2 linked regions of the Homo sapiens genome follow. The protein of the gene in region 2 purifies or fractionates together with the protein of the main gene of each other region. This does not show direct contact. Each region holds a gene or a part of one and is shown on either strand. Other genes may lie near its edges.

Region 1 (4,831 bases), on a different chromosome or scaffold from region 2:
ACCAGCCTCTCTTGCATGACTCTGCTTCATCAAGCTCACGCTCCTACCTTACCCTCAGCCCTTCTGGAAGGTGCCCATTAGCCCTCAATCCAGGACAGAGAATATCCACGGGAATCCCTACATTCGGAATGCAAACTGGTCCAGTCTGTCAGCTCTTTCCAGCAAGATGAATCCACTCAAGCTAGTTAGCATATACCTTCCACACTCTGGCTAACTTCTGGGACCCTGCCTTACAGAGGACGCTGTCAGAGCAGATTTCCAGCAGGAAGGGGCCGTGCACACCTAGGCACCCCCCTACCCAGGGGTGGGGGGAACCAACTCTGCCTGTTCCCAGAAGGCGGGCCTCTTTGCCCTGTTGCTGGGTGGTGGTTAGGCACATACAGTTAGGAACACCCAAAGGCACCTCTTGGCAAAGGTCCAATACCTGACTCTAGTGCAAAGGACACAGATCTGGGTGTCAGAAGACCCTTCTTTTGGCCCTAACACTGATGCTAATTGCTGTGTGACCTGGGGTAAGACATTTTCCCTCTCTGGGCCTCAATTTCCTTACTAGTAAAATTAAAGAGGTATGTTCCTGGAAATTTCAAAAGATCTCTATAGCATGCTAACAAGATCTTAACAGTCATAACTCAGTTATTGCAGGTTAAGGGTGAAGAGGCTCCTCCTTGCTAAGGAGAGGATGAGTGACACCATTACTAAGCCCTTGATCTGAGTGGCTCATGGAAAGGAGGTGAGAGAAGGGCAGCAACTTCTATAACTTTTGCCCAAACCCAGAACAATGCAAATTCCTGGGACACAAACAGTAGAGCAGCACTGGCCCCATTCGTTCCACAACCCACCAAAGGAATGCCCAGAGGGGCCACCCCACAGTTCTATTCTTGAGAAGCCACAGCTGTCCTGCAGGGACTATTCCCTTAATCAGCACCCCAGCCCTACATGGGTCCCAAAGGAAAACCAGCAGCAAAGTCTCTGTGCCTCCCTGTCTTGCAGGCATGTTCTATCTAGCCTTGGGAGAGGCTACTGTCACATGTCGAGAGCACCAGATCTGTGACTCTGGGGAAGCCACTTAACCTCTCTGTGCAACAGTTTTCTATCTGTAAAACAGGAGTAGCAATAATGCCCACTTCCAGGATTGCTGTGAGGATTAAGTGATATAATCCACATGTGCACAACAAATGCTAGCTGTTGTTAATCTCAATTATACCAAGCATGAGTAACAATCATTAATAATCACCATGGTGAATTTTAACCTGCTGCTGTATCCCTACTGTCCTTTCACTGGGACCAGAGAGATATCCTTGATGTAGGGGCTGAAAACACGCACGCGAGAGAGAAAGTCTGTGATGTTTCCCCACAATACACAGCAGGACACTCGATGAGAACCCTCGGCAGGTGACACGCTGACTTCACTGTCCCACATCTGCACCCCGAGCAGGGGTGAGACTTTGCAGGCAACAAACCATGCAGTCTGCCCGCAGCTGAGGCTCACGGGCAGCACAGAGCAGAATGCACACAGAGAGCGTTTGTTCCTCCCCCTTCTCCCCCACATCCGTCGTGAGGTCAAGTCACGTGGGGTTACTGGCAAACCCCATGTTGCAAGAATATGGGTATTGTTCTTGTGCATGCCTGGCCCACACTGGGCAAGGGGACAAATGTAGCTTGTCCTCAAGTCAGGTCGCATCTTCCTGGGCAGTCAAACGCTGTTGAGGCCACAAGCTGGGCTTGGGGAGGCTGTGCAGCCCCATGCATGGAGCACTGGGTAAGAGGGCAGCCTCCTTTGGTTCTCTCACATGGGGACAGTAGAAAGGCCCCAGTTTCTCCCCATCTAATGGGGGCAAGTCAAGGAAGGATGAGGTCACTCCTTTGAGCTCCATAGCAGGGGCTGAATAAACAGGAGGTATTAAGAGATCAAAAGGATTTACAAACACATGAAATACCGTGGAGTGGGAACGAACAGGCAGACATGTTTTCTCTAAGTCCAGATCCCAGTTCTTGAACCTGGCGGTCCTGGCAGAGGCCAAGGGAATTGGATTAGCTGCAAGTGAGCTACTAAAGAGAAAGTATTTCCCACGCAGAGAAAGAGAACATGCTCCTAATGGGGCTTGTGGTTAATATTAAATATTCATGCTAGGGCTCAGCAGAGGAAGATTTTAGGATCACGGGTTTTGTGGGCTTTAAATCTTGCGTGGATGGCTACGGATCTGCAGTGCCTAGCTTTAGCCCTCTCTAGTCACGGGAAAAGGGAAGCGATCCCCTGGCAGCTGTGTTCGGGGACTCAGCAGCAGCCGGCAAGCTACAGGACAGCTCATCTGGAAGCAGGCCCCATGGAAGTCACGGAACCACTGCAGGGCTCGGGCTGGTTTTTACAAGGGCTATTCAGTGCTTCCCTTTGGAGAAGCTACTCATCGCTTACACCCCAAGCTTGTTAGCCAAGGCTGCTGTTGATAAATGACAAAGTGTTCCCCTTTATAAAACAAGCGAATGTTAGCTTGCTGTCTGACTCATGGAAAAAGTTATCCATCACAGAGCCTTCTCTAGGATTACGGTATTAATTTGCTTAAGGGTTGTTTATTCTGCTTTTTTCAGGCTGACATTACAGGCCCAGAAAAAAAAAAAAAAAAGAAAGGCTGGTGTAGCAGCAGTAGCATATGCCAGCGTGTCCTTTACACAAGAAATGGAACAGTGTTTTTCACTGTTCACCAGGGCTCTCAGTTTAGCCCAGGGAGAGGACACAGCAGGCTCCCGTCCCTACACCAGCTCTGTCCTGCAAACAGCACTCACCACGCCCGTTTGTGTGAAGGAGAACAAAATCCGGTAGGGCCTCTGGCCTGCAATAAAAGTTTATTATATCCAAATAACTCCACCAGGTGTTCAAAGGAGCCCTACCTCTGCCCCGACTGGTTTCGTCTTGGTTCCCGCCCTCCCGAGTTCACGGGAATAAGTGCCACAATGGAATTCCATTTGCCACACGCTGTACTTCTTTGCCCCAGAGGGGAGTGGGTGTGTAAGCTGTGCTGTGGTTGTGTAAGCTGTGCTGGTTTCAGGAGGGAGAAAAATGAAGCCCAGAGCAATAAAATGAACTGCCCCAGGTCACAAGCCAGGATGGGGATGCCAGCTTACTAAGGCCAAGTGTCGCGTGTCCTGAAAATCACCAGGCACCTCATCATGGATAGGGGGCTGGCCGAGGAAGGGGGGGCATTCACGGCCTCTGGCTGGAGCCCCCCTAGATGCCCTCATTCAGCAGCCATGGTTCTGGAGGGACACCAGGGAGCTGGGAAAGGCTGCTGGCCTAGGACCAAGAAAATGAAGTTCCCCAACAAGTTTGCAGCCTGGGATTAGGGATCTTGCTGACGGGCTGAATCTCCAGGCCTGGATTGGAGAGAAGGCCCATATAAGGCTGTCAGCTGCTCTGGACTTACCATAGACTGTTCTGAATGTTGGAAAGGTTTTCACTTGCTTTTCTGCCTGGTTATATACTCTTTCTCTACTTGGTAAGCTGTGGCCCCACTGGAGAAAAGACACCCCTGGGCTGTTCAGGTTTCCTGAAAAGTCAGCTGCATGGTCAGGCTGGCCTGTGGGTTGCTCTGCAGACAGTTGGTGGCCCAGTGCAAGGGGCGGTCACCCCATGACTATTCCTTGGAAAAGTAGCCAGGGTGTGGCTGGCACTCCAAGCTCATCTGCTAGGAGAAGGGCTCTGGGCCAGTACAGAAGGCTGGTCTCACAGCCTCGTGGGGAAGGGGACACAGAGCGACGCCTCCTTGGCCCTTTGCCCATGGACGACAATTATTATTTCCTAAAGCGTTCAGTGACGTTCAGGGCATAGCTCAGACCTAAGCAGTGCTCAGAGTGCTGTGCTGCTGTTTTTTTTTTTTTTTTTTTTTTTGAGATGGAGTCCCGCTCTGTCTCCCAGGCTGGAGACAGAGCCTCAGTGGTGTGATCTCAGCTCTCTGCAACCTCTGCCTCCCAGGTTCAAGAGATTCTTGTGCCTCAGCCTCCCGAGTAGCTGGGATTATAGGTGCACGCCACTACGCCCAGCTAATTTTTGTATTTTTAGTAGAAGTGGGGTTTTGCCATGTTGGCCAGGCTGGTGTCGAACTCCTGACCTCGGGTGATCTGCCTGCCTCGGCCTCCCAAAGTGCTAGAGGCTGAGGCGGACGGATCACCTGAGATCAGGGCTGATCACTGTGCCCAGACACAGTGCTGCTGTTCTAACTTTACCGTGCATCATCCCCCTTGCCGGCGCTTCTGCAGGCAGAACGAAGTCTTCAAAGCTCCGCTCTCTTCCCCGAATGGGGTGTCGCTGCAAAGGATCTGTATTTCCCTGGCAGAGCTAAGTGGACAGTGGCCCTTAGACCCCAACTAGGGGATCTGTGTCTCTTTGGGGTTGTGCCTTCAAATCACCCTCCTGGTCACTTCAGGTAGGACCACCGGCCACCAGCAGGGCCCTGCAATGACCTGCAGGATCTGAATCCTGTGAGGTTCCCAGAGGTGAGCCCCAGCTCCTCTAATGGCACTCACCATTCTCCTGCCACCCTGCAGCTTTCCCACCTGTCAGCTGCTGGCTGGGCCACCGACGCAGGGGTTTCTCTCCCTGACTGCAATTTGGGTGAAGTAAAAGGGCCAAGACAGCGCCACCCCATCCCTGCCAATGGGGCACATTCAGCCAGTACAGACCTCTTCCATTCCTACAGAGGGAGACCCCACAACCTGGCAATGACAACCCGAGAAGCAGCTCTTTTAGGCCTGGGTTCAAAACCTGGCCCTGCCTCTTGAGGGAATATAAGCTTAGACAAGTTATTTCAGCTCTCTAGGCCTCGGTTTCTGCACTTGT
Region 2 (5,189 bases):
CTCTTGTCGCCCAGGCTGGAGTGCAATGGCACGATCTCGGCTCACTGCAACCTCTGTCTCCCAGATTCAAGCGATTCTCCTGCCTTAGCCTCCTGAGTAGCTGGGATTACAGGTGCTCACTACCACACCCAGCTAATTTTTTGTATTTTTAGTAGAGACAGGGCTTCACTATGTTGGCCAGGATGGTCTCGAACTCCTGACCTCAGGCGATCTGCCTGCCTCGGCCTGGGATTACAGATGTGGGCCACTGTGCCTGGCCAGATAAACTACTTTGAAGTGGAAGAAAGCTTTTTTTTTTTTTTGAGACAGGGTCTCACTGTATTGCCCAGGCTAGAGTGCAGTGGCACAATCTTGGCTCACTGCAGCCTTGACCTCCTGGGCTCAGGTGATCCTCCCACTTCAGCCACCTGGCTAATTTTTTTTGTAGAGATGGGGTTTTGCCATGTTGCCCAGGCTGGTGTCAAACTCCTGAGTTCAAGCATTCTATGTCAGCTGCCCAAAATGCTGCGGTTACAGGCATGAGCCATTGCCCTCAGCCTGTATCTTAACCTTCCTTTAAATAGTCTGTCAAGTTACACAGTGAGCACAATTGCTTGTCTAGAACAGTGGGTAGTTCTCAGTGTGGCCCCCAGATGAGTAGCATTAGGAACTGTTACGAATGCAAACTGTCATGTCTACCCCAGACCTTTGAGTCAGAAATGGGAGTGTTGGTCTAAAAACTGGGCTTTTTGGGCTGGGCGCAGTGGTGCACGCCTGTAATCCCAGCACTTGGGAGGCCAAGGCAGGCGGATCACCTGAGGTCAGGAGTTCGAGACCAGCCTGGCCAACATGGTGAAACCCCGTCTCTACTAAAAATACCAAAATTAGCCGGGTGTGGTGGCGAGTACCTGTAATCCCAGCTACTCAGGAGGCTGAGGTAGGAGAATCACTTGAACCCGGGAGGCAGAGGTTGCAGTGAGCCAAGATGGCGCCATTGCCCTCCAGCCTGGGCGACAGAGCGAGACTCCATCTCAAAAAAACAAACAAAAAAACTGGGCTTTTTTTTTGGCAACCCTTGGGGAATAAAAACCTATTATTTTCTTAAGGACAAAGTATCCTGAAGCAAAAAAACCCAAACAAAGAAACAAAAAACTTTAACAAGCACTACAGGTAATTCTGATGGACTAAAGTTTTAGGACCATAAGTCTGGACTATATTGAGGTGAGAAGAAACTAAACTATGCCATATAGAATGGTACTTAGAGAGTAATTCACATCCTGTTACGTTGTGGCATCACTGATAGAAATATTGGATAATGAAACTTCTAGAAGAGTTTGAATGTTCACTGGCAGCAGAAAATTGACAAAAGGGTTTGAATGTTATTTAAAGTGCAGCTGTACATTCAACAGGAATGGGGTAAAAAAGAAAGTGCAGATGTAGCTGATGAGCTGAGAATAGTGAAATGTCTACATGGGGGAAAAAAGGAAAGAGTTACAATTAAACCTCTCTAGGTTAGTTATTTCCCTGTTGTATGTTTGCCGCAGAATGTGCTGAGTATAGCAAGCATACTATGTATAGCTCTAACCTGGGTGAACCAGAAAGTTAAACATGAAATTGCTAATGGGGGAGGCTGCACATGTGTGGGGGCAGTGGATTTATGGGACCTCTAGGTACCTTTCTCTTAATTTTGCTGCTGAACCTAAAACTGGTCTGATTTTTTTTTTTTTTTTTTTTTTTTTTTTTGAGATGGAGTCTCGCTTTGTCACCCAGGCTGGAGTGCAGTGGCGCCATCCCAGCTCACTGCAAGCTCCGCCTCCCGGGTTCATGCCATTCTCCTGCCTCAGCCTCCCGAGTAGCTGGGACTACAGGTGCCCGCCACCACACCCGGCTAATTTTTTGTATTTTTAGTAGAGACGGGGTTTCACTGTGCCAGCCAAGATGGTCTCGATCTCCTGACCTTGTGATCCACCCGTCTGGGCCTCCCAAAGTCCTGGGATTACAGGCGTGAGCCACCGTGCCCGGCCTAACTGCTCTGATATTTTTAAAAAAGGTGACTTGGATTAAAGTATGCAAACTCAAGGAGTAGTACGAGCCCACTTGAGTGAAGTTAGCTTAGTTGCTAAAGAGCTTGATACCAAAATTACTTTTGTTTACTTGATGAATGGGATAGTTGTTGCACAGGGCCACTGATCTAGATTACTGTCTTATTTGTCAAGTACTTATAGTTGTAGAAGTAGCAGTGTGAAAATTATCGGAATGGAGAAGGGGCAATGATAAAACAATTTATTTTCAGGTACCAGCAACTTCAAGGTTTCTGCCAGCCCACTGTTGTATACGCTTATTGAGAAAACAATGCAAAATGTGAGTATATACCTCATTACAAAAATGTATGACTTAATTTTTGTTGAATCAACCTGAGATAAAAAACACTGATATGTAAACCGTAGTCAGTAACAAAAAATAGGAATTGAGAATAAATTTTATAGCAGCGTTATTTAAGGGATACTTGCCTATTGAACCATATGAGATGAGGGCTCCAATCTTAAAGAATATGTTGTTTATTTAGGAATATATAACAAAATGCCATGAGGCCTAAGCTGTAGTGCAGGGGCCCACAGGGGATTGTCTATAGAGTCACAATGCTAAGGAAGGCTTAAATCAACTTGAACTATACTTTGAGAAGGCCGGAGGAAATATTCATTGAATAAACAATTACCATAGTTTTGAATGAGGGAGAGCATGTGAAAGAAAATATTTGCCTATGTGGGGTGGGGGGAGGGGAGAGGGATAGCATTGGGAGATATACCTAACGCTAGATGACGAGTTAGTGGGTGCAGTGCACCAGCATGGCACATGTATACATATGTAACTAACCTGCACAATGTGCACATGTACCCTAAAATTTAAAGTATAATTAAAAAAAAAATAAATAAATAAATAAAAAAGAAAATATTTGCCTAATGGGATTAGAGGCTGTATATTGGAGTGAGTAAAGTTAGAAACAGGTCAGATAGCAGACATTGGCCTTGATCCAAGAGATACTAGGGATTATAGGATCTCAAGCAAGGTGATCATGAATTTGCCAGTTAGGTTGGTGGCATAAGATGCACTAGAAGGAAGAAACCAGAAACAAGATAGGCATAGTGTGAAGCCCAGAGAGGGCTTTTACAATTGTGGGTAAGCCACCATGGTTTTGTTTGTTTGTTTGTTTGTTTTTGAGATGGAGTCTTCCTCTGTCTTCCTCCAGCACTCAGGCTGGAGTGCAATGGTGCGATCTTGGCTCACTGCAGCCTCCACCTCCTGGGTTCAAGCGATTCTCCTGCCTCAGCCTCCTGAGGAGCTGGGACTACAGGTGCACACCACCACACCTGGCTAATTTTTGTATTTTTAGTAGAGACGGGGTTTCACCATGTTGGCCAGGATGGTCTCAATCCCTTGACCTCATGATCTCTTGACCTTGGCCTCCCAAAATGCTGGGATTACAGGTGTGAGCCACCGCGCCCAGCTTTTATTCATTTTTTTTTCCTTTTTTTTTTTTAAGAGATAAAGTCTTGCTGTGTTGCCCAGGCTAGTCTCAAACTTCTGGGCTCAAGTGATCCTCCCAGCTCGGCCTCCCAAAGTGTTGGGATTGCAGTTGTGAACTACCCCACCCGGCCTAGGCCCACTTTTAAAATGTTAATTAAGAAGAAAACATTTTTTCCTCACCATAACTAAAGGAACTGACAACATGAGCCTAGTTAGTAATAACTTAAAGTTGAGATTGTTTTAACTATCATAAATAATTTCTTTTCAAGAAGATATAATACAAGTTTTTTATTTAAAAATTGTTATAGAGTAACATGTTAGTGACTAGCCTGAATAAATAAGTTCCAAAAGGTTAGTTTTAATGATAATTTCTTATCTTACAGGTGAAGCATCCGGTTACTGGGCAATTTCTATATCAGGACAGCAACTGGGCCAGCAAAGTGTAAGTTGAGAAAAGTGAATGAACAAACTAATAGAAAAGCAGAGATTCTACCTACTACATTAGGTAGAATCTAAATCTGTCCTTGCATTGAACTTACTTACACCTAAAGATATTCAGCTAAAGAATTTATTTTGGATGGGGGGACTAGCACGATAGAACAGTCTATTCTTTAAAACACTTTCTAAAGACACATTCTTTGTCTTTGCAGTGAGAAACTCACTTTAGACAATGCTGCTTTCCCTTTCCTTGCATATTCTGGAATCCCAGCAGTTTCTTTCTGTTTTTGCGAGGTAAGTCTGTTCATTTAAATGACAAATGGAGAGAGGCTCTCTAAAAGGAAGTGATCTGTATTTGGGAATAGGGCATTGCAATGGGAATGCCTGTGCTATAGTCAACTATGTACATATTCAGAGGAGTAAAGGAAAACAAGTTTTTAAGGACAAATGACGAGGATTACAAAATTACTTTGAGGTAATTATTCTTGGCTACCAAGATCAATAACAAGGATGACACCAGTCCAAGGTTGACAGGCAGTTGCTAGGCAGATTTTCTCACGAGAGAAGTTTTTTGGTGCAAGGTTGCAGTGGCCTTTGTGTAAGGTTGTAGTTTTTGTAAAAAGGAAAAAAAAAAACCCTTAATCCTTGTTATCAGACATACAAGGGTGAGACCCTTCTCTTCAGGGTTGCATTTTTGTTAACACTAGTGACTCCATTTTGATTTTGACAACTTGCACATATCTTAGTTGTTGGGTTTTTTTTGTTTGTTTTTTGTTTTGTTTTTTTTTTTTTTTTTGACAATGGTGACTTGCTCTGTCACCCAGGCTGGGGTGCAGTGGCCCGATCATGGCTCACTGCAGCCTCAAGCAGTCCTCCCCCTTCAGCCTCCAAACTGTTTGGATTATAGGCAAGAGCTACTTACTACACCTGGCCATGGATCTTCTTGTGTCAACTTTGAGACCAAATTTACTGCAGTGCTTAAAATGTTTTAAGAAGTTATACACATGTGCTGGATGTGGTAGCTCACGCCTGTAATCCTGTAGCAGGACAAGCCGCAGACAAATCCCCTCAGACACCGAGTTAAAGAAGGAAGGGCTTTATTTGGCTGGGAGCTTTGGCAAGACTCACGTCTCCAAAAACTGAGCTCCCCGAGTGAGCAATTCCTGACCTTTTTAAGGGCTTACAACTAAGGGAGTCTGCGTGAGAGGGTCGTGATCAATTGGGCAAGCAGGGGGTACGTGACTGGG

The links. The genes of interacting proteins can lie anywhere in the genome.
Region 1: the proteins of TFRC (region 2) and CD9 purify together in Homo sapiens (co-immunoprecipitation; 2 studies listed by IntAct). This does not show direct contact.

Annotation. Positions count from the first base shown.
Region 1 is NC_000012.12:6,227,611-6,232,441, reverse strand, and holds part of CD9 (CD9 antigen), read right to left. Parts: intron 1-4,831. UniProt on the Homo sapiens protein: Integral membrane protein associated with integrins, which regulates different processes, such as sperm-egg fusion, platelet activation and aggregation, and cell adhesion.
Region 2 is NC_000003.12:196,057,331-196,062,519, reverse strand, and holds part of TFRC (transferrin receptor protein 1), read left to right. Parts: intron 1-2,272; coding exon 2,273-2,340; intron 2,341-3,887; coding exon 3,888-3,946; intron 3,947-4,154; coding exon 4,155-4,236; intron 4,237-5,189. UniProt on the Homo sapiens protein: Cellular uptake of iron occurs via receptor-mediated endocytosis of ligand-occupied transferrin receptor into specialized endosomes. Endosomal acidification leads to iron release.